7 linked regions of the Homo sapiens genome follow. The protein of the gene in region 5 purifies or fractionates together with the protein of the main gene of each other region. This does not show direct contact. Each region holds a gene or a part of one and is shown on either strand. Other genes may lie near its edges.

Region 1 (3,500 bases), on a different chromosome or scaffold from region 5:
TAGAGAAATGTCTGTGGTTTTGTACCCAAGTGAATCTGGCTGCATTCCCTTTGGCTGTATAGATGTACCCCTTAGGAAACAAGGACAGCTTTTCACTGTTACAGTTCTGCCACCTTGTTCTAACTGTCATATGCAAGCTATCTCAATATAATATACCAATTTTTTGTGTATATAACATAAGCACACTATGTACTTTGCTCAAAATGTTCTGTTACTGAGTACATATAATCTGTATACACATCAGCCGTACATAGGAGCAAATTGTATATTTCTTCTGTAGTCATAGAGGGAGTAGATATTAGGATTGTTGTTTTCTGCTCCTGAAATTTTTGTTCTGAGTTTTAAAGACATTTAGCCATCTGTTTATGACTTTAAAGTGAGTGTTCAAAGTGGAGGCTCTGAATGTATGTATCATTACAGATATATTGAAAGGGTATTGTCAATAATAAATGGCTACTATACATCTTTTTCGGCTGTTTTCTAACTTTTTAAAATGTGTAATGTAAGCAGGTAGTATTTTTAAGGAAGTGGAAATATATCTAATGTTAACTATGGATTTTTACCTGGATTATGTCTTTTAGGAAGAGACTTTAGGGTGCAGAGTTGCTTCAATTGCATTTAAAATAATCAATTTTTCCTTAAAGCAGCTTTTACCTGTATCCTTAATTTATAGATGATATGTATTTATTTCATATTATATTATAAAATCATTTTAATAAAAATGAAATGTTGGATTCATCGTTGAACTTCTTTTTAGAAATATAAATTAAGTTGAAATTAGTAGCTTTCAAAGTTTTATCATATATATTTTTTCCAGCAGATATAGTAGATGCTTACAAATATTTTAATTCACCTAACTCTTCTCTAAGAGAATGAATTGTATCTTCTCCCACCCACAGGAGACTGACTGGTTCCAGAGATTTCTTTTCACAAGACTTCAGTTTTCTGGCTGCAGTATAAGAATTAAAAGGGCTTTAGAGTTGGAAACATATATGCATATTAAGTTATTTAGCAGTTTAAACATATATACTTTTATTCAATATGAACATGAGAGTAGCAGTTGGAACAAAGACTCCATTTGTCAATTTTCATTCCTTTTATTTGTAGTTGAAATCCTGTTGGGAGTATGAGTAAATTTAAATATAAATAAAATGCAACATTCAATGTATTTCTACTCAGGAAACCAGTTACAATGTTATTAAGTTACAATTGCATAAACTAACCTTATAGGCCTACAGCAAATGCTAATACATTTTGACCTTGGTTTGTACTTGAGGGTGTTTTTTGGTAATTGCTGTCACCCTGACAGCCAACAAGGGGGACTCGCAAAGGAAAAGCGTATGAGAGCGATTTGCAGGGGCTCAGACTGCACATTGCGCTGTGGTGTTTTGATGTGTTGCCTACCTGTTTTTATTACTACCCACCAGCTCGCTATCAAGTAGTCCTTGACCTGGCTATCATTGATAGGTACACTAGTCTTGAGTAATTGGTACTTTAACTTATCAACTACTTTTAACCACTGTGTAAAAATGAAAGCAAGAATAGTACGTTAATAATTGCCAGGCATTCCCTTCTGTACTGTACATACAAATAGAATTTTTACACATGTGCCTGTATGTATATATAGGTTGAGTATCCCTAAATCAGAATATGTGAAATCTCAAATGTTCCAAATTCTGAAACTTTTTGAATGTGAGGTGACATTCAAAGGAAATGTTCACGGGTACATTTCAGATTTCTGGTTTTCGAATGAGGGGTACTTAACTAGTTTAGTATATAATGCAAGTATTTTAAAATGAGAAAAAATCCAAAATCTAAAACATTTCTGGTCGCAAGCATTTCCGGATGCTCAATCTGTACAGTATGCCTAATTAATTCATCTTCTTATAAAATTAACTTCTATATATAATGAGTTAAAGTTAAGAAAAATATTATTTACTTGTACAATCCATTGCCTCTGTACTTATGAAAATTGTCCAGAAAATCAGTCTTTGCTGACTAAGCTTTTTTGCATATGGACATACTCGGGCATGTTGGCTTTATATATCTTATCTTTATATACCTCAGCTAAAAGCTAACACCCTTTATATTTAATTTGGTATGCTAAGCTTTTGGACCGGCAGGCTTGTGGCCCATTACCAGCGATGGTATTCTCCAAGGTGTAGGGGATAGCAGAGGGCAGGTCTTCCTTTTTTTTCCTGAGAGAGCACCGTAGACATGTTTGGAATAGTTCATCACCACTGTAAAGCTCACAAAGAAGAGACATGCTCAAAAAATCACAATTTATAAGCAATAATGTCTTACATAAAATAAAGGTGATTTTTTTTTCCCTTTCAGATTTTGGGGTAAGTGCGTTCCTAGCAACAGGGGGTGATGTTACCCGAAATAAAGTAAGAAAAACATTCGTTGGCACCCCATGTTGGATGGCTCCTGAAGTCATGGAACAGGTAAAAAAACAAAAAAAGTGACTTTTTGATGGACATAGTACAATCGTACAGATCATTAATATGCTAACATTTCATTTGTATCTAGCATTTTAGTAGAATGCATAATGTAACTAAGATTTAATTCTCAATTGCTAGCTAATTAGCAAACTAACGTGAAAGTTATACATCAACAGCTGTGGATTTCTGACATGACATGGACTTGATGATGTGTAACATGCCTGCTGTATGATTGTGTTTTTTTCCTGCTTTCTTTCTTAGGTGAGAGGCTATGACTTCAAGGCTGACATGTGGAGTTTTGGAATAACTGCCATTGAATTAGCAACAGGAGCAGCGCCTTATCACAAATATCCTCCCATGAAAGTAATTACAATTGGAAATACTACATCGGGGTTGAAATGTGATTGGACGGAATCTGTTTTCTAATTCTCTTCAACATCTTCATTCTTCTCTTAGACCCGAGGAGAATTAATGGAGGAACGCAGCCAAGTTGAACATTGTCTGATTTTCTCAGTGGACAGAATAGGACAAAAGTAGCATAATTCCCAGCTTTGAAGCTTGCTTTATAGTCTCAGCACAGAGTTAAGAAAATAATGTTATCAGATTGGTTGATGGAGGTTGATAGCTATGACAAATGCTGGTCATTACTCTTTTGATAGCAGAACAACGCCAGGTTCCCAGAGAATATCTCAAAATAGATTATAGTGATGTCATCTCTGCAAATGGGTTTCCCAGATTTTCAGAGCTTTTTTTTTTCTTTCTTTTTAAGTGGACTACAACATTTTTACCCCTGCTCTTATAGTGTAATGTTGGCAACTGATCTGATATAAGTGAGCCACAGTGTTTTTAGGATGCTATTTTCACGTTTCTGCTCTTCTTTTAACTGGTTTATACCTCATTATTTCTCTTAGTTCTGAGATAGTGGTATCAGGGCTTATTTACCCAACTGGATTTTGTTTTGAGGCTGAAATAGTTTAGTGAAATTATAATGCTATTTTACATAGAGTATGGTCTATGATTGTTTCATGGTTACTGGAAAAATTTGGGAGGATTTAT
Region 2 (3,500 bases), about 79 Mb from region 5:
TGCTTTATTCTCTTCATGGCACTTGCCTCTATCTGAGCTGCCAGCAGGCTTAGTGGTTTATGATTTGTCTTTGTCTTATGCTCCTAAAACAGGAGCTCCCTAACAGCCTCCCCACACCCTGGAGCCGCCTGGCCCCCACACAAAGGGTGCGGGGAGAGGAGCCTGCCCGGAGCATGTTAGGGGTTTCTGGAGGCTGCCAGAGGCTCTCCTCTCCCGGGATGGCCCACCTCACCTTTTTCAGTCCTTCCACTTGTTGCAGCTCCATCCTGAGTAGAGAGGAAGTGTCTTTCTCGTGCTGTAATTCGCGCTGAAGAGCCTGTCTTTGCTCTTTTTCTGATTTCAATTCTTTCTCCAGGCTTGAGCTGTTTTCCCAAAATGAACTTGAGTTAGTCTCAGTGGGAGACTTTCACGGAAGATTCACAACCCAATTCACCGCCCAGGAAACAGGGAAGTCTCTGAATTGCCTCTTGAGCATCTAAAGCCTTCGGCAACGCTTCCCTCTCCTCCAGGGTCACCTGCCCTTCCACAAGAAAGAGCAGGAACCAGGGAGAGAAAAGCCTGCAGGCACACACTTGACACTTACGCAGGGGAGAAGGAAGAGAGCTCTAGAACACTTAGACCACATAAGCAGAACCCTCCCGACATGGAGACCTGAGGAAAGGAAGCTCAAAATTCGTTCTTTTCTTTTTTTGAGACAGGGTCTAGCTCTGTCACCCCAGCTGGAGTGCAGTGGCGCAACCTCAGCTCACTGCAGCCTCGACCTCCTGGGCTCAAGTGATCCTCCCGCCACAGCTTCCCAAGGTGCAGAGATTACAGGCATGAGCCACCTCACTGGCCAATTCATTCTGCTTTTTGTTTTTTTTTGAGACGGAGTCTCGCTCTGTCGCCCAGGCTGGAGTGCAGTGGCACAATCTTGGCTCACTGCAACCTCTGCCTCCTGGGTTCAAGCTAGTCTCCTGCCTCAGCCTCCCTAGTAGCTGGGATTACAGGCACACGCCACCACGCCCAGCTAATTTTTTGTATTTTTAGTAGAGATGACGTTTCACCATGTTGGCCAGGCTGGTCTTGAACTCCTGACCTCGTGATCTCCCTGCCTCGGCCTCCCAAAAGTGCTGGGATTATGGGCGTGAGCCACCGCGCCCGGCCTCATTCTGCTTTCTACAACCTACAGCCAGACTGACAATGAAGGATCCTGGAGGGAGAAGGCCAGGAGGGAGCCTCAGCCTGAAGCTGACTCTGCCCTTTACCAGCTGAGTGGCCCTGGGGGCACTGCTGGACCGCCTGGAGTCTGCTCTCTCTTTGTGGGAATAAAGATGTCTCTTCTCTCTTCTCTCAACATCAGGCTTTTAACTTGGCATATATATTATCTCAAAAAATCTATAGGCCAGGCACGGTGGTTCACACTTGTAATCCTAGCATTCTGGGAGGCCGAGACGGGTGGATCACTTGAGGCCAGAAGATTGAGACCAGCCTGGCCAACATGGCAAAACCCTGTCTCTAATAAAAATACAAAAATTAGGCTGGGCGCAGTGGCTCACGCCTGTAATCCCAGCACTTTGGGAGGCCGAGATGGGAGGATCACGAGGTGAGGAGATCGAGACCATCCTGGGTTAACACAGTGAAACCCCGTCTCTACTAAAAATACAAAAAATTAGCCAGGTGTGGTGGCTGATGCCTGTAGTCCCAGCTGCTCGGGAGGCTGAGGCAGGAGAATGGCGTGAACCCGGGAGGCAGAGGTTGCAGTGAGCCGAGATCGCGCCACCGCACTCCAGCCTGGGCAAGAGAGTGAGACTCGGTCTCAAAAAAAAAACAAAACAAAACACAAACACAAAAATTAGCCGGGTGTGTTGATGTACACCTGTAGTCCCAGCTACTCAGGAGGCTGAGGCACAAGAATCGCTTGAGCCCAGGAGGTGGGGGTTGCAGTGAGCTGAGACTGCACCACTGCACTCCAGCCTGGATGACAGAGTGAGACTTAAAAAATAAAAAATCTGTAGATGAACTGTGCACAAAATTATATGAAGCTTGCATCAGCAAAGGCTAGGTGAAAGGTGACTTTCTGTTCAACACTGACAAAGCTGTTTCTTTTTAGAAAGGGTGGTTAAGGGTGATACAGGCTGTGACCTGGTACCATGGTTTGAGAGTGGCCAGATCTTCTGGAGGCGAGCTGGACCACGTGAGGAGCCCTGTGGGGAGGGAGCTCCCTAGGGATAACATACGAACCCTGCAGGGGTGAGTGGTGAAGCAGGATACCACCTGCCCCCCCGCCCCCCCTCCTCCCGTTCGTGCTGAAGCAGGATACCACCTGTCCCCAGTTCTTCCCAGTCCCTCCTGAGCCACACCCCAGCCCAGGCTCCCTGCAGGGCCCCTACCATTGCTCGTGCAGCTGGGAGAGCTGCAGCTGCAGGGCGCCGATCCTCCCGCCCAGCTCCTGCTGCAGCTTGTGGCTCCGCTCCTCAGCCCCCTGCCTCGCCCGCTCCGAGTGCTGCAACCTGGATGCGACACCAGCAAGAGTGCAAATGAAGCAAATCTTTGTAAGGAAAGGATGACTTTTGCTGGCTGAAATTCATTTTTAAAATTACCATACAGTAAAATTAACTCTTGTGAGTTTTAACACGTGGAGATTCAGCTCCACCACAATCAGAATACAGGACGGTCCCACCACTCCCAAAACTCCCCACCTCAGCCCCTGGCAACCACTCATCTGTCCTGCAACAATATGGCTTTGGCTTTTTGAGAATGTAATCTCAATGTAATTATACATTATATAACCTTGAGACTGACTTTTTCTCAGAATAATGTCTTGGAGATCAATCCAAGTTTCCATGTGTATCAATGGTTCATGCCTTTTGTTTCCTCTCTGAACGTCCTGAAAGGGCAGTGGTTCATTCCTTTCTACGGCTGAGTCATACTTCACCGCACAGACGTACCACTTTGTTTATCCATCACCCAATGCAGAACATTGGGATTGCTTCTAGCTTTTGGCAGTTATGAACGGAGCTGCTATAAACATATGTACTAGTTTTGGTGTAGACATAAGTTTCATTTCTATTTGGATCATATGGTAAGAGGACGTTTAGCTTCTTGAGAAACTGTTTTCCTGAGTGGTTGCACCATTTTGCATTCCTACCAATAAAGTATGAGAGATCCATTAGCTCCGTGTCCTCATCAGCACTTGGTATTGTCATTAAAGAAACGGTAGCTGGCCAGGTGTGGTGGCTCATGCCTATAATCCCAGCACTTTGGGAGGCCTAGGTGGGCAGATCACCTGAGGTCGGGAGTTCGAGACCAGCCTGATCAATATGGAGAAACCCCATCTCTACAAAAATACAAAATTAGCCGGGCATGGTGGCAGGCACCTGTAATCCCAGCTACTTGGGAGGCTGAGGCAGGAGAATTGCTTGAACCTGGGAGGTAGAGATTGCGGTGAGCTGAGATCGCACCATTGCACTCTAGCCTGGGCAATGAGAGCGAAACTCTGGCTCAAAAAAAAAAAAAAA
Region 3 (3,500 bases), on a different chromosome or scaffold from region 5:
AGGAACAATAATTCATCAGAAGCAACATCTCTTGCGACGTGCAGTGATTCCCAGGCCCACAGATGTTCCCCTGTAGAGAACAAGTGCTAGTGGGTTGGTGCAAGCACCAGGAGCTCTTCTGAGGAAAAGGCCTTGCAGTTATTTACATTTATGATTCTTCAATGCTGGAAGATCGTGGATCAATCCCAGGCTTTGCCAGTTCTAGCTGTGTGACCCTGGGAGAATTACTTAATGTATCTGAGCCTCAATTTCTTCATTTATGTAGTCAATATAATCATAGTTCCTGCTTCACATTGCTAGAACTTAAAGAGACAATGAATGTAAAATGCTGAGCCCAGTACTTGACCATAACAAGTATAGAATTGACACTAGACGTTGTTATTTAATAGCTCTTCCAAACTAGAAAACTCAGAGCTCTGTCTGGTGGGCTGGATGGGATTCTATTGTGAGGTCTTTAGCTTCAAACAAGTAATAATAATGACAATAGTAAGTACTATATTTTGGATGTTTATTAGGAACCATGATACACATCTGTCATTTCACCTCATTAATGTTCACATCAATCCTTGGAAAAATGATAGTATTAATATTACTCCCAACTTATAGACAAGGAAACTGAGGCTCTGAGAAATTAACGGAGTTCTTTAAGGTCACATAACTGATAAGTGGCAGATCCAGTTTTCAAACCTAGATATGTCTGACTCTGGAACCCAAATTCCTATTGTATGTGATGCTGCATTTTGAAGTGACTTCTCCTTAGACATTATAACTTAAACGTGGCCCCTTCTCAGTGAAATCTTTTAAATTTCCTATTGCTTTTGGAGGCAAAGGGCTGGTCCCTGCAGGAAGGATGCAAGTACTTTCAAGCTGTTCCTGTCCTTTGGGATCCCTGAGTTCACTGAAGGCTGTTAGTCTGTTGGTGGACTCCTAGCTCCGGCCTTCTCTCTGCTGTGCTGCATAGCCTCCTTCTAACAGAAGTTTCCCCAGACCCCACAGTGTTGTGTGCTGGGGTAGCATACTTACTTGAGTCATTTTCTCCCGGTTGGCCTTGGGGTTCAGGGGTGCCTCCGTGAGCAGGGTGGGATGCTCTTCAGGGGCAACACGAAGCTCATTGTAGAAAGAGTGGTGCCAGATCTAGTGAGTTGGGGGACAGAGGAGAAACACAATGATGTGCTGTCATGAGGTCCTGCATTTCCCAAAAAGGGACCAGAAGCTACTTGAAACCAAGACCAAAGGAAATGCTACAAGTACTCATGCATGTGTCCATGGTTTTATAGATGCAGAGACTGAAGCTCAAAGTGTGTAAGTACCTTCCCAAAGGATTCACATCTACTAAGTGACTGAGCAGAATCCCTAACCCAGATCTGTGAGGCAGGATGGTATGGCAGTTAAGGGCACAACCCTTGATCAAACCTTGGGTTCAAAGCCCAGCTCGGACACTTCTTAGTTGTGTGAGCTTAGGCAAGTTTTTAACCCTTCTCAGCTTCAGTCTCATGATTGGTAATAGGGAGATGAAAATAATTAGTGTGTACCTCATCGGGTCTTTGTGTAAATAAATAAGGTAACCCTCGAGTTATTGTCCAGCCCAGTGTCTGGTCCAGAATCAATGTTATTATTATTCAACTCTATTTTCTTTGTTCTCTCTTCCCATTTTAATGTTCATGGGAAAATGATTTAATTTTGTAAATAAAAAGACAAATGAATGTATATATGAATAAATGACGCTTACTTGAAAACCTAATTGACACTTTTAATGCTTCTAGAGAAGTTGCCCTTTGCAGTGTACATGAAGAAGAGAACAGGGCTCTCTGACTCTTGCCTCCATCACCCTCTTTGCTCTCGAGGGATGAGAAAAGCTTCCTCTATCAGCACACTCTGGATCTTCCACTCACAGTCAGACATTTGGCCTTCAGGTGTTTCCAAAAGGCCCACGCCTGTGTATAGTGTGTCTATGTGAAGGTACTTTGGACATAACTACATTTATTTATGGTTGAGCACTTTCTTTAATTCCTAGATGCCGAAAAGAACAAACCATTGCAAAAAGGACTAAATTAATTAATCTTTAAAAGCACGAAAATTCTCCACCAGAGCCAGGAATATGAGATTCACTCAAAATCAAAACAGAGCAAAACAAGAACTGCTGGTGAAAGCTTACAAATTAGCAAAACCAAGATTAGCTTTAAAGACTATCTTATTCCACTTTCTTTTGTTTTGGATTTGTGGTTTATAGAAGGGAAATGAAACTTCTGAAAGTTTTGTTTCTTTAGTGGAGTGAAAGCAGCAGACTGCTCAAAAAATCCTGCCAGTCACAGCAAGCAACCTTTCTCCTCTCTCTCTCTTCGTCCCCACCAGAAGATACTTTGAATTTAAATTTTAGAAATAAGGAAAGTTTTTTCTTCCAATAGTCTCTGTCTAGGACGATACATTCTAAGATGTTGTCAGCTCCATGGAGAAATTCTAAAAGAATATTTTCCTATTGATATTGATATCTTTTTCTCTGTGCAAACTGCAATCTTACCAAATCTAGAATCCTCAAGCAAACCTACTGATATGAAATTTTTGTAGAAAGATAGAGCTTGGAGCATTACTGCTGATAAATTCTAACAACATTATGTATTTTTCTTTTAAGTGATAAATTGTGTGCGTAGTAGTAGTAGTGAGCCGATAGATAAATAAAAGGCCAGATATCGTGATTCTGATATATCTTGCTGCATTTAAAATTTTTTATGTCACTTTCTCATTATTTCTTCTGTTTTTTTCTCTGATCACTGGTGTCTGTAATGTTTAATGACCAAACATCAAAATCTTAGAATTTAGCTCTTCTTCTCATTAGCTCTTTTATTAAGTGTCTGGGAGATAAGGCCTCATGTAATGCAACACAGATAAATAATTTTTAAAATATTTATCATATAGCTTTTTTCAGTGGCTCTTGTGCTTCAGTGTGTGGAGAGGCATTCAGAAATGTACCAAACCTGCAATGTTACACTCCTGTTTACTATAGTGAAAACAAAAACATTTTTAATTTAGATGTTTAGAGTGAGTTAATGAAAACCTTTCAAGAATGGGCTGTTTAAGACTACTCCCAGCATTTCAAGCCCCTTTAGCTATATTGCACTGAGAGGGATAACCATGCAGCCCCTGATGAAAATGAAAGGAGGGTTTTCATTCTCTGAGCTGCTGCTCATGCACTGCTTGTCCTAGGAGGGCAACAGAGTTGACGTGAGCAACAGATGATTAATTCCCTGCAGTGGCAAAGGGCTACTCTTCTCATCTACAGAACTATCATCCTTTAATTAGTTAATAAAACCTAATAGGCAAGGACATTTTTTTCCTTTTCTTTAGAGACAGAGTCTTGCTCTGTTGCCCAGGCTGGAGTGCAACAGCTGATGGTATGATCAGCTCACTGCAGCTTCGAACTCCTGGGCTCGAATGATGCTACCACCTCAGCCTCCTGAGTAGCTGGGACTACAGTTGCATGCCACCACACACTGTTAATTAAA
Region 4 (3,500 bases), on a different chromosome or scaffold from region 5:
GTGTGTTGAGCCGCTTCCAGTCACCCTCAATCTTGGTGGTGATGTCCTCATCTTGCAGCACGACCCGGGCGATCCGGCCTTGGCGCCACTCTGGGTGGAGGGGGTGGTGCAGGGAGCGGCGTGAGAGGGATGAGGGCTGTGAGCCAGTGTCTCCCGATTGCACCTTCTCTAGGGACCTGGCAACCCGGCCCCCTCAAGCTGGTACCAATAACAGAGGCTAGAGACATCTAGGGCTCCATGGGCCCAGGCAGCAGAGGAAACACGTAGACCTCCCCAGAGACAGCCACATCTGAACAGGCAGCGCTCAAAGCGGGAAGCATTTCACACGGGCCTCAGCTGGCCAGGACACAGTCATGCCCCTGCAAGGGTTGTGTGCATGGCAGCTTCCCTTCCTTCACCTCTCAACCCCTGCCCTCACACTCTGAGTCCAGGTTTCCTACCCAAGTCCATGTCCACTGCCCTCGGCCGCTGGGAATAGGGCACATTCTTATACACGGCATCAAGAATCTTCTCCTTGACCTGTGTGATGGTGTCACAGTTTAACACCTTCACTGGGATCTCTGGACTGTTCTCGTTGTCAGGGTTGACGCAGTTCAGGATCTACAAGTAGGGGACAGAGGGTGAGCAGGACAGGAGTTGAAGGAGTAGTTTGAGGGAGAGGGTCAGGACCTCAGAATCTTCTTTTTCCAAAGTTCACCCTCCTTATAGGGGAAATAAGGGTACTTTTCTGGTCTGTGACTCAGTTTCCCTCACCTTCATAACATCTGCCAAATGAGAGTCTGAGTCATTGTGTCCAATTCTTCTTTCTCAAAGCACCAGGACTCTACTTTCTAGCTCCTGGACAGCTTAGGGGAGACTATAGTCCTGGAATGAGGCACCCTCAGTGTTTAGAGATGGCTCTACATGTATCAGAGACTAGTCATGCACTTCCCCAAAGCCTCTATGTTAGGAACCAACATACATCTTTCTCATAATACCAATTACCCAATAACTAATGATGGGTGAACTTTTTTCTCCCCCAATATTATCTAGGATAAACCGAGGCATAGAGTGCTTGGGATGGGTGGGCGGGCCTGCCACCTTGCTCTTGGTACACTTAGTTGTCCTTTGGGCTCACCCCAGACCAGCCTCCCATCCTCTTTATTGACCCCCTAGACTGCTTTTATGGACAGAAGGCAGAGCAAGGGGCAGAAGTAGAAGATACACAGGCGGGCCCGGAGCTTCCGGCTTCCTCACCAGGGTCTTGTACTCGATCTGCTGCCGGATGAGCTTGTCCTCGCTCAGGGAGTAGCGGGCCTCGCCCGTGATGGCATCAATGGGGCCCTTCTCCATCTGCTGCTTGATGGCACAGTATAGCATGAAGAGTGGCTCCCCTGCGCACTCCTGTGGGCACAGACAGGGCAGGAGGTGTGGGCACGGCCTCCTCAGGTTTGTACGTTTTCCCTTTCCTCTCTCGGAGCGAGGCCAGTGGAAGGAAGGGCTTTAGCACAGCCAGTCCAGGTTCCTGCTCCCGAGGGAGGGGGTCCCCATGCAGCCCTGTGGCCAGGATCTAAGCAGCAGTGCCATCCTGCCCTGGACGCTAGGCCCCGTCTCACTCCCTTTCTCACCTTTAGGAACTTGTGCAGGAGGAAGGCGAACCAATTGGTCAGCATCTTTTCAGCCACAGACTCTGTCCTGGGGAAGGGACAAAGGGTAAGGGGCAGTCCTTCACAGAGGGGTCTCCGTGGTGGGGCCTGGGCTTGCCATGAGGTCTCCCAAGAGAACAATGGAGCATGGGAGAACGCAGGGCGGGAGTCAGGACACCTGGGTCCCAGCCCAGCTCACCCAGTAACTAGACTGTGACCTGGGGGTAGGGGTGGCTTCTTTCTGGGCCTCAATTTCCTATGAAAATGGAGAGGTTGGCCTTTTCAGCCCTGATGGTCCGTGGTGCTCTGAACTTTGGCTGCATCTGAGACAGGGTCTGTGGATAAAGGCACCTCACTATCCCACAGGGCTATAAAGAACCGGTTCTCCCAACTCACTTCTGGCCTCAGGGTGATAACTAGAGAGTTTCCCAGTCCCTCTGGGCTTTCTTGCATGTGTGAGTACCCTGTTTTGCCTATCTGGAAGGTGCCTGGTCCCTTCCCCTCCAAAAACACTCAAGGTTAGACTTCCTTGGGTTCAAATCCTGATTCTGCCATACGTTGGCTGTGTGACCTTGGGCAAGTCATTTAACCTCTCTGGTTTCAGTATTCCTATCACTAAATGGAGACAGTCATAATAACATCCAACCCCAGTGGTTGTTGTCAGGGTTGAATGAGTTAATATTTGTAAAGTGCTAAGAAAAGTGCCTGGCACCTGCTAAGCACTATCCATTAGCTGTCATTATTGCTGTCATGTGGGGTCTTGGATCCCAGCCCTCAGGTAGAGAGCAGTGCTTAAGTGTTTTGCCAACAGGGGATTTGCTCATGCAAGGGCTGGCCCCCCTCCCCTTCCCATCCCAGGGCTACAGATCTGGGGATTTGGGAAGGAACAAAGCGGCTGTGACAGACCCTCAGTGAAGGGGATGCCGGAGGGGTATTTTAACTCCCTGCACGTGGTGCAAATTATATCCTCTGGTTGCAGTAAATCCCAGGCATTTGCCAGGGCTGCTCAGCAATCTGGGCCTGGGAGAGAGTGACAATGGCAGAAAAAATTGTAGCTTTCTCCCGTGGCTCCTCCCAGCACCCTCTCCCTGCATTGTGCTTGAGATTAGCTCTAATTTAAATACAACAGTTCTTAATGAGAGTTTCTAATGCTCAGATTGGCAGGATGGGGGCTCAGTACTCATAAAGCAAAGCCATTCTTCCTCCCTCCTCACCCCACGTGGGGCCTGGAAGCCTGAGACCTTGCTAGAGGAAGGCTAAAGAGGAGGGGTGGTGAACGGAGGTGCAGCCCTCCAGCCCCTGCTGCCCAGAGGACTCCAAAGCTGTGCCCGGCTCCCCACGGCCTCTAGAGAGGGTGGGCTCAGGGGATACTGAGGTCTCCAACCCTCTCCCCTGCCAGGAAAAATGCAGTGGGCATGTGTAGTGGATGCTGTGATTCAGATCCAGGAAGCTGAGCTCAGAAGGCACGGCCTTCTAGGCTGTCCAAATCCCTAGCTCAGTGCTGCGCAATAGAACCTTCTGCGATAATGGGAATGTTCTCTATCTGTGCGGTCCCGTATGGTGGCCACTAGCTGCAATGTGGCAACCAAGCACTTAGAAAGCGGCTAGGTGCTAGGGCAATGGAGGAGCTGGATTTTACATTCTATTTCATTTTAATTTGTAGCAGCTACCTGTGGCTAGGGGCCGCTGTGCCGGACAGCACAGCTCTAGAGGCACCGGGAGGAAGAGACTGTGAGATAGGAATTATTTTTCTCATTTTGTCTAGGAGGAAACTAAACAACAGAGTGGTTACAACACTGGCCAGAAATCACAGAGCTAGCAGGAGGCAGAGCTGGGACTCCAGCTGAGATCCGAGCAAGGGTCTGAGCTCATCCA
Region 5 (3,500 bases):
AGACTTAAAAATAGTTTCTTATACTGTAATAGGAACTGGGCTAAGGTATTTTTGTTTTGTTCCTGAGATAATTTCCTGCAAGGATTTACCATTTCCTGTTTAAATCTCTAGATAGTTTCTTGTATTGTATTATTTTGCACACAATTAAATTACATTCTTTTTTTGTTTTTTGTGTTTTGTTTTGTTTTGTTTTGTTTTTTGAGACAGAGTCTCACTCTGTTGCCCAGGCCGGAGTGCAGTGGTGCGATCTCGGCTCACTACAAGCTCTGCCTCCTGGGTTCACGCCGTTCTCCTGCCTCAGCCTCCCAAGTAGCTGGGACTACAGGTGCCCGCCACCACACCTGGCTAATTTTTTGTATTTTTAGTAGAGATGGGGTTTCACCGTCTTAGCCAGGATGGTCTCGATCTCCTGACTTCGTGATCCACCCACCTCGGCCTCCCAAAGTGCTGGAATTACATGCATGAGCCACCGTGCCTGGCCTAAATTGCATTCTTATAATTAGATCATGTTTACTCAACACACATTCTCTTGGTGGTTGACAGGAAGTTTCAACAAAATAAGATAAAAATACTGCATTTGGAGAGTAAGTCACCGCCTTTTTTTTTTAAGTTACAAATATCCCTGGTAATTACAATTTGACTCTTAAAAAAATGTGCATCTTAAGAAACTGTAACATTACAGTGCATTGTGTTAAGAACATGTCTGTTTTTGTTTGGGTATCATGTTACTCTGAAAAACACCTTAAAAAGATAATGTTTCCATCTTAAACATACACACACACACACACACACACACATACACACACACAAACACATTCCAGTGATAGCAGATTAAGTTTTAGAAAGAAATAATCTGAAGTAAGTCCTCCCTGACTATGGAAAACTAATGAGAAAACTTAAGATTACTCTGAATTAGTACCTTTGTTTCCTAGATTTTGGTTTATATTTCTCAATCCAATACCAAAACCAAAGCATGAAATAAGAGGAGTGACTGCAGTAGTGCATTTTCAGTAAGTTAGAATCCAGATAGTGTTATATATGATTAACAGTGAATACACATGGGTTTTTACAGATATTTTAAACATAAACTTTGCAGATTCTTTTAGTAATTTAACAAGACTCCTATCTTTTGTCCTATTCACTTTTATAACCATTATAAATATAAACTACTTCACTAATTCCTAACCATTTTATTCCAAAGAGCAACAAGGCCAAACTTCTGACCACTGGTGAAAGGAATGGTATGCTTTTTTTGGTTACTATGAATTAGGCATATTTTCTAAACTGATTTTGAATTCTGTAGAAATAACTTCTCTCTCCACCTTCCTGTTCACAAATCTACATATACCCTCTTAAAGTGTCAAGGTATTGAGTTCTAAACTGTGGCCAAGAATAATGAAAGTAGCTCTAGAGAGGCTTGTGACTTTTCAAATAGAATGGAAATTTGTACACATGGTGTACGTGTGAAAGGCAACTTCATTTATGGATTTTATTGAAACTAATACATTGATGTATGTAAGATAGCGTTTTGACCTAATGTGTGTACTTGCTGCTGGAACTGTAAATGAAAATAAGGAAGTGTGAGCGCTGATGAAACAAAAATGATTTTTGTGATATGAAAGCAAAGGCAAACTCCCCAAAGAACTATTCTTTAAGTAACTGTTTTACATCTCCTTTGACTTACCTCTCTGAAACCCTGTGGTTAATACAGTTCAGCAAAATAAGAAGTTTCATATCCTCTGTTGATTACTGGAGTTGGTTGCCTCTCATGAGCAATTAAAGCACCCAAGACACAGAATTTAGGGTGTGTATAATCATAATGTTAAAATGTGAAGGCTCTTCCAAGTACTGCAATTAAAATAAAAAGTTTCAGTGATTTGTAAAACAAGATTCCTGAACACAGTGAGGATCATTTAGATAGTTTTCATATGGTCAGACATCATTACTTAAACATTTTGCCCTCCAAAAACTGTGATTCCTTACTAACTTTAAAAACCTATTTAATTTTAGATTTTTCTAAAAGCTCTAAAGATGAAACCATCAGTCACAAAATTCAGATACTCTTAGGTATTGTTGTAATATATTGTCATTCTTTTGAAACCATATTCAGTAAAACAGAAGGAAAAGATATATAGGTAGATTCATAATTTAAAAAGAATCTTGAAAAATAGTAAGAGAGTAATCTAATGGGGACAAATCAGATATATAAATTGCAAGTTTAAGAGAATGTATGAAAGCATAAAATTGGTGTGGGATTGCCACTTTTTTACTGGTATTTCTTCAGAAGCCCCACACATGGGCTGCATTTTTCAAATTAACATTTTGTATTTTTTTTTTTTAATAAAGAATGGAGCAATTTTGGGCCCAGTGCAGTGGCTCATGCCTGTGATCCCAACACTTTGGGAGGCCAAGGTGCGTGGATTACCTGAGGTCAGGAGTTTGAGACGAGCCTGGCCAACATGGCGAAACCCCGCCTCTACTAAAAATACGAAAAAGAGCCAGATGTGGTGGCACACACCTGTAGTCCCCGCTACTTGGCAGGCTGAGGCAGGAGAATCACTTGAACCCAGGGAGGGAGAGGTTGCAGTGAGCCGAGCTCATGCTACTGCACTCCAGCCTGGATGACACAGTGATACTCCGTCTCAAAAAAAAAAAAAAAAAAAAAAAAGAAGAGTGGAGCAAATAAGATAGTAAGCATGAAGAGGGGATTTGGGGACTTCAAAGTCATTTAAAAATTTGGCTACAAAATGTAAAATAAAAGCTTCTTATTTATACAGTTCTAAGAAAATTATTAATATACAACTTAATATCTTAATAACCTGTTTAAATTAATGACAGTTTTATATAATATTTTAAATTATTATCTAAGACATAGCTCAAATACATTTTTATAAAATACTTAGAGTTAGGTAAAAATTCTTATTTTACAGTTACTTTAATTTGACTAGTAATAACCAAGTGTTGTTTTTACTTTGGTGGGATGATTATACTTAATTTTCTTACTTTTAATATGGGAAAAAAACAAACATTACAGAAAGTGTATCCTCAGTTTCAATATCAAACTATGACGAGAATTTCTTAAGAATCCTTCCAAAAAACCTATAGATAGACAGATAGATAGAGAAGCATATTTTAAAATTATGTTTTATATGCACAAACCTAAATATGTTTTTATTGTAGTAGCTCTACAACTCGAATCATATGTACTCTTTTGCACTTTATTTTTTAAATTAACATGACATTTTCTCAACAACACATAAATACAGCTTGTTTTTTTTAATAGGAAAGTATATTCCATTATATACTTTTCTATAATGTATTTAACCAATCTTGTTTGATGGACATTTGTAGTACTTCTCATTTGTTCTTGTTGTATATAATTTTATTTTGTTATTAAAAATATTTTAAATTATAGGAAAAATGAGAGGTAGGGAAAGGAAAGTAAATATACAATTCTGGTTAGCTGATTTTATAAACTAATAGTATATTTTAAAATATAA
Region 6 (3,500 bases), on a different chromosome or scaffold from region 5:
CTACCCCCACCTCACCCTTCCGGCCCCGCCTGGCTTACGTGGCCAACAGCAGCTCTACCTCCAGTTCCGTGGTCTCAATGCTGATCCCGGAGGTGCTAAGGATGAGGTAGAAGGTGACCTAGGCCAAGGGTGGAAAGAGATTAGAGTCAGGGGTGGTCTACGGGCTTATGGAGAGGCTACTCACGTAGGGATAAGGGCAGATGTGCCAACCTGGGCACCTCTCTTCATGGGGTTCCCCAGCTCACACTCAACATGGGAGGCATTCTCATTGGACAGGCAGAGTGGCTTCTCCTGGAATGGGAGAGAAGGCAAGGTCAGTCTGGGTTACTGGAGCCCCTCAAGACCCCACCCCATCCTGCCCCCAGGTCCTCACCGCAGGGTCCAGGGCCCGGACCCCTGAGTAGTGCAGTGAGTCAGGAAGCATGACCAGGAGCTGGGCTTCATGGGCATCATCCCCATCAGCCTGGGGCTGGGCTGGGTCCGATGGCAGGTTGGTGACCATCAGCTCCAGGCCAATGACTGGCTGCCCACTCAGTGCAAACAGGGCTGTTGTTCCATCCACATCCCTGGAGAGTCAGACCCCACTCCTGCTAAGTTCTGAACACCTCCCCCTACCATTCCCCCGCCCAGTCTGCTCCCCCAGTACCTGCCTTCACTCCCTGAGCCTCTCTTCCCACCCCAGGTCCCCATCACACCCGTCCAAGCCTCAGGCCTCTGTACACACGACTGGGAGTCAGGGGACCTCCGTTCTCATCTCAGCTCCACCATTACTTACCTTGGCCAAGTAACTTAACCTCTCTAGGCTTCAGTTCTCCATCTATAAAATGAGACTAATATAATTCCTACCTCACAGAGGTTTGAAGACTAACCAATGAGATGTATGTAGACTGCATATTATTAGTGTACTGTGAAGGATTGCTATTCCTTGCCATGGGAGCCCCCGTGGCCCCATCACTGACCCTCATCTCAGTCTCCAAGTCCATCGGCAGGTCCTCTTCCACCTTCTGCCTTTTCTGCAGGCTCAGCCCTTCCCTCTGACTGGTCCTCCTGAGAGGGCTTTCTCTCAATCCTTGAACTCTTGCCCTCCCACCCCCACCCTGCTCTCTGCCCCCCTCACATGGGCAGAGGTTGGAATTCCGTGTCGCTGACCCGGGTACAGAAGCGGGCGCGGACCAGCTGCAGATTGCTCTGGCAGATCTTGTCTTCACCACAGCCTTGCTTCAGGAAGTGGATCTGGGGAGAGACATGAGATAAGGGGCATTCCTAGGGGGCAAGGCAGGGGGCAAACCTGTCACCATGGCATATGGTGGGTTAGAGTATCACAGGATTAAACAACCTGTCCTCAACTCTCAGATCTGCTGCTTATTAGCCATGTGATCCTGAACTGGGTCCTCTCCTCTGGGTCCTCTCATCATGGTAGTGATGGGAGCACTACCATGCCATGGTAGAGACTAGCAGCAAGTCAAGAGCTGGGCCACACTGCCCCAGCTCACATGCATGTAACTGAGTTCCGGATTTAGAACGGGAAAAGATGTCAAGGGCACCACTTCTGGGCCAGCCATAAAAACCATGCAAGCAAGGGGCCTCATGTTCTCCCTTCCAGCTGAATGGGATGAATGTGACTTCAAGAGCTTGAAGGCCGCATTTGAAGATTACAGAATCCCATCAACCTGAGCCCCCTGAATGACTACATGGAGTAGAGGAGCTCTGTCCCCTTGACTAGGAACATGGTCATTTAGGCACCTAGAGATATGAGGAATTACTGGAGTAGCATACGTGAAAGGGCTCTGTGAGCTGTGAATTGGTGTCACTGGGGAGGGACCATGATCTTTGCCCTCCCAGCTCCTCCCCCTGGGCTAAACCAGAACCCATGCTCACCTCTGCCCGCTGGGTGCTGGGCTGGTGGGCATTGAGGATGGGGGCCACTGGAGGCAGCCCCTGGCCAGGAGCCTGTCGCCGGAGCCGAGGGGTCTGGAGACTGTAGGACAAGGTCACTACAATGGCCCGAAGCTTGTCTTTGACATTTTCCTAGGAAGAGGAAGGTCTATTCCTCACTGGAACAATCCCCAGGCCTCAGCCCTGCTCAGTGCCCCAGCCAGACCTAGGACCAATTCTAAAACTTGGAAAGAATATTAGGGAGATGAATGAGAGAGGTGGAGAACTGAGCAAGGAGGAGGGAGAAAGACTGGGGTAGGGGACAGGGGAAACCTTTAGGGCTTTGAGGACCAGATGTGATGATAAAAGCTGCCACCTCCTCCATTCAGCTGGAAGAGGGGACATGAAGCCCCTTGCACCTCCTCCTCCTCCAGGGAGTGCAGAAATGACAGGAGAGGGCAGCAGATGAGGAGGAAGTGAGCTCAGAAGACAGGTTTCCCACGTGTCTAGGTCTTAGAAGGAGGCACGAGTGTGCTCGGGAAAAAGCAGCTAAGAGGAATCAGGGAAAAGAGATGGAGCCATGAAAATGACCCTCAGAAGCCAAGGGGTCAGTGTCCACCTGGAGCTGGAACATGGCGTCTCCACAGACTCGGTCATGCTGGTGCTTCAGCCACACGGTGCCCGAGGCCTGGTGCTTGGGTTCTTCCAGGTTACGGCTCAGGAACGTCACACGGGGAACCTGGCCCCGGAGCCTCCGGTCTGTGTCCGCATCTAACACATAGTCCAGGGCTGTGGCATGTTGGGAAAGGAGGAGCTGCTGAGCTGCAGAGCTGCTCCAGCTCACCCCATTCCAAGGGTGCTCTTCTACCACCTCGAAGTGACCCCCCTCCCTGGGAAACCCAAAAGGGCGAGCCACAGAGGGGGGACCGCACTCACCCACAGTAGGGCTATAGCTGCTGGGGACTGCAATGTAGCTGAAACAGACCCTTAGGTCCACACTGCGGGGGCAAAGGTGGCTCCTGAGCCAAACGAGGCTGATGGGCCAAGGCCCCTACCCCCACCCCATCTGTCACATCCTGTCACAGCCCCAGCCCCAAACTGGGGAGATAAAGGATCAAAGGGAGGGCAGGGGAAGCTGCCAGGGTCCAGGTGCCACCCGATCCCACCTCACCAGACCGAGTGGCCGCCAGCACAGTTGGGCTGCTCCAGGTCGATGCTTCGTGGAGCAATAGAGACCTCATGGGAGACATGGAGGATGGGTCTGGCCCTGGGATTGGGGAGTCAAGAGCACAAGAAACATGAGAACATGAGGCTGGGAAACACTCTTCAGCATTAGATTTGGCACTGAGGTCGGGGTCAGAGTCACAGGGAGGGGCTGACGGCCTCAGGGAGGGAAAAGGTTGAGAGGGGCTCACCTGAAGAGCACTGCGGTGTCAGCCAGGGAGCCCACCAGCAGGTCAGGGTATTGGTTCCCATCCATATCCAAGCTGCCTGACAGGGAGTAGCCGAAGCTCTTGATGCCCACAGCCTCGCCCTCCAGCACCTAGAGAACCAGCTGTCAGCCTCCCTCAATCCCACCTCCCGCAGGCCTCTGCCTCCCCTGATGCCTCTGCTGATTCCACCCA
Region 7 (2,173 bases), on a different chromosome or scaffold from region 5:
GAGCATTACTTATTATATGAGGGAAGATAAATTTTATGAAATACAATTTAAATGTTCTTAGTGGTAATATAGTCACCCAAAAAATACTTTTCGTATTCTACACTGATGTGACAGTAATAATGGTTTTTCTTCAACTGACAGATGGGCTTTTTTAAACGGGTCCGGCCACCTCAAGAAGAACAAGAAAGGGAGCAGCTTCAACCTCATGAAAATGGTGAAGGAAACTCAGAAACTTAACTGCAGTTTTTAAGTTATGCTACATCTTGACCCACTAGAATTAGCAACTTTATTATAGATTTAAACTTTCTTCATGAGGAGTAAAAATCCAAGGCTTTACTGCTGATAGTGCTAATTGGCATTAACCACAAAATGAGAATTATATTTGTCAACCTTCTCCTTATAAATAAGTTCAGACATACATTTAATAACATAGGGTGACTTGTGTTTTTAGGTATTTAAATAATAAAATTTCAAGGGATAGTTTTTATTCAATGTATATAAGACAGGTAGTGCCTGATTTACTACTTTATATAAAATAGTACCTCCTTCAGTTACTGTTTCTGATTTAATGTACGGAACTTTATTTGTTGTTGTTGTTGTTGTTGTTGTTGTTGTTTTAAAGCAGTCCAAATTTGGACCTTAGCAATCATGTCTTTTGTATAGGTACTTAATGTTAATACATATTACACTACAGTTTACTTTTCAGAATACTAAAGACTTTATAACTGCATGAACTTGGATTTTTTTAATCACTCATATGGTAGAATTTTATAAACACATACATGATACCATCCAAATTCTTGCTTTTAATAACAAAGGTACAATATTTTGTTTTAGTATGAAAATCTGGTAGATCCTATTACACTTCTGTTTATATTAAATCCACAATATTTTATTACATTTTTAACTTGTATAAATTTTAGGTCAAATCCTTCAAGCCAACCTATACTAAAAATTAGTTCCATAATCACAAATGGCTCTTTTGTGTAATTGTTTAATTTCACCTGAATATCATAATGCTTAAAGCCATATGGAGTTGGAAATTATTTCCAAAGCATATTTATTCCATTGTTTTAGTCTGGCTATTTACAGTATAAAAAAAGCATTTTTATTAAAATACTGTGTAGTTCTTTGAGATAGTTGCTTATGCATATAGTAAGTATTACATTCTTAGAGTAGAGCAGAGTTTTTAGTTAGTATTAATTTATTTTCCTCCATTCATGTACTTTTCCTTATATTTCCAAAACTGTTACTGAGAATGGGTCAAGATCAGTGAGAAATCTTTACAGTTGACAGGAACCTGGACCCCTTACCCCAACTTTATGAGTAATGCTTGGAATAAAAACTCTTAAGGCAACTCACTGATTTACTTCTAGCAATAGCATGATGTTACAGGAATATTACCTCTGTTTAAGCAAGGTAATGTGTAAAATCAGTCTCGGCTGTCAGAATAACTTCTAAAAGGTATTTTTATAAGCAGTTCAAGTTACTGAAAACCTTTTAAACCTTTCTGAAGTTCGTTAGTATAAATTACTTTTCTAGGATTATTAATAAAAGCCACATAGGTGGCAAGTTGTAGTTTTATATGGCTCTGTAGAGTGGTGAACCTTCTAGAGGAATATATGATTTATTCACAGTTCCTCAAGGCCTGGGGATGATGATCAGTTATACCTATTTTTGTGCAATTACATCATGTTGTACATTAGAAATGGAGAGTTTAATAGCTCTTTAACTGCTGTCCTCATTAGGTAATGATAAATATTTCCCTTAAATAATTGACTATTTTGCTGTGTTTTAAAAATGATTGAAATTTATCTTGCCATATCTCATAATTTCATGCACAAGTTGACTGAGCTAATCTTGAGAATATATTCGTAAAATAGGAGCACATTTAGTTGAGGTATACAAGGTAGGACTCTAGACAAAACCTTCTATTTTAGCTTTAGTGAATTTCAAAAGTAATGGGTCTTGGAGTATAGATTTTTATTAGTAGCTTGAAAGAGCTTAATCATATGCAGTAAGTATTTTTATTACCAATAAATTTAAAATTTTTTAAGAAAAATATTTTTATCCTAGGGCCAAGTGTTGCCTGCCACCAATCAGTAAGTTAGTCTATAACAAATTTTACCCTAACAGTTTTACCACCTAGTAACAGTCATTTCTGAAAATATGT

Evidence for each region.
Region 1: the proteins of ST8SIA4 (region 5) and STK39 purify together in Homo sapiens (affinity purification with mass spectrometry; 2 studies listed by BioGRID and IntAct, with this or other methods). This does not show direct contact.
Region 2: the proteins of ST8SIA4 (region 5) and RUFY1 purify together in Homo sapiens (affinity purification with mass spectrometry; 2 studies listed by BioGRID and IntAct, with this or other methods). This does not show direct contact.
Region 3: the proteins of ST8SIA4 (region 5) and ACTA2 purify together in Homo sapiens (affinity purification with mass spectrometry; 2 studies listed by BioGRID and IntAct, with this or other methods). This does not show direct contact.
Region 4: the proteins of ST8SIA4 (region 5) and PLXNA2 purify together in Homo sapiens (affinity purification with mass spectrometry; 2 studies listed by BioGRID and IntAct, with this or other methods). This does not show direct contact.
Region 6: the proteins of ST8SIA4 (region 5) and ITGA7 purify together in Homo sapiens (affinity purification with mass spectrometry; 2 studies listed by BioGRID and IntAct, with this or other methods). This does not show direct contact.
Region 7: the proteins of ST8SIA4 (region 5) and ITGAV purify together in Homo sapiens (affinity purification with mass spectrometry; 2 studies listed by BioGRID and IntAct, with this or other methods). This does not show direct contact.

The regions. Positions count from the first base shown.
Region 1 is NC_000002.12:168,139,596-168,143,095, reverse strand, and holds part of STK39 (STE20/SPS1-related proline-alanine-rich protein kinase), read left to right. Parts: intron 1-2,337; coding exon 2,338-2,447; intron 2,448-2,705; coding exon 2,706-2,807; intron 2,808-3,500. UniProt on the Homo sapiens protein: Effector serine/threonine-protein kinase component of the WNK-SPAK/OSR1 kinase cascade, which is involved in various processes, such as ion transport, response to hypertonic stress and blood pressure.
Region 2 is NC_000005.10:179,595,554-179,599,053, reverse strand, and holds part of RUFY1 (RUN and FYVE domain-containing protein 1), read right to left. Parts: intron 3,151-3,500; exon of another isoform or gene 2,493-3,150; coding exon 2,373-2,492; intron 2,233-2,372; exon of another isoform or gene 2,093-2,232; intron 802-2,092; exon of another isoform or gene 699-801; intron 363-698; coding exon 233-362; intron 1-232. UniProt on the Homo sapiens protein: Activating adapter involved in cargo sorting from early/recycling endosomes. Regulates retrieval of proteins from endosomes to the trans-Golgi network through interaction with the dynein-dynactin complex.
Region 3 is NC_000010.11:88,942,774-88,946,273, forward strand, and holds part of ACTA2 (actin, aortic smooth muscle), read right to left. Parts: intron 1,135-3,500; coding exon 1,024-1,134; intron 1-1,023. UniProt on the Homo sapiens protein: Actins are highly conserved proteins that are involved in various types of cell motility and are ubiquitously expressed in all eukaryotic cells.
Region 4 is NC_000001.11:208,038,385-208,041,884, forward strand, and holds part of PLXNA2 (plexin-A2 precursor), read right to left. Parts: intron 1,675-3,500; coding exon 1,608-1,674; intron 1,384-1,607; coding exon 1,237-1,383; intron 601-1,236; coding exon 441-600; intron 91-440; coding exon 1-90. UniProt on the Homo sapiens protein: Coreceptor for SEMA3A and SEMA6A. Necessary for signaling by SEMA6A and class 3 semaphorins and subsequent remodeling of the cytoskeleton. Plays a role in axon guidance, invasive growth and cell migration.
Region 5 is NC_000005.10:100,851,283-100,854,782, reverse strand, and holds part of ST8SIA4 (CMP-N-acetylneuraminate-poly-alpha-2,8-sialyltransferase isoform a precursor), read left to right. Parts: intron 1-3,500. UniProt on the Homo sapiens protein: Catalyzes the transfer of a sialic acid from a CMP-linked sialic acid donor onto a terminal alpha-2,3-, alpha-2,6-, or alpha-2,8-linked sialic acid of an N-linked glycan protein acceptor through alpha-2,8-linkages.
Region 6 is NC_000012.12:55,694,405-55,697,904, forward strand, and holds part of ITGA7 (integrin alpha-7 isoform 2 precursor), read right to left. Parts: intron 3,419-3,500; coding exon 3,291-3,418; intron 3,143-3,290; coding exon 3,047-3,142; intron 2,874-3,046; coding exon 2,812-2,873; intron 2,665-2,811; coding exon 2,495-2,664; intron 2,029-2,494; coding exon 1,879-2,028; intron 1,234-1,878; coding exon 1,118-1,233; intron 567-1,117; coding exon 374-566; intron 292-373; coding exon 211-291; intron 119-210; coding exon 39-118; intron 1-38. UniProt on the Homo sapiens protein: Integrin alpha-7/beta-1 is the primary laminin receptor on skeletal myoblasts and adult myofibers.
Region 7 is NC_000002.12:186,677,056-186,679,228, forward strand, and holds part of ITGAV (integrin alpha-V isoform 1 preproprotein), read left to right. Parts: intron 1-141; coding exon 142-237; 3' UTR 238-2,173.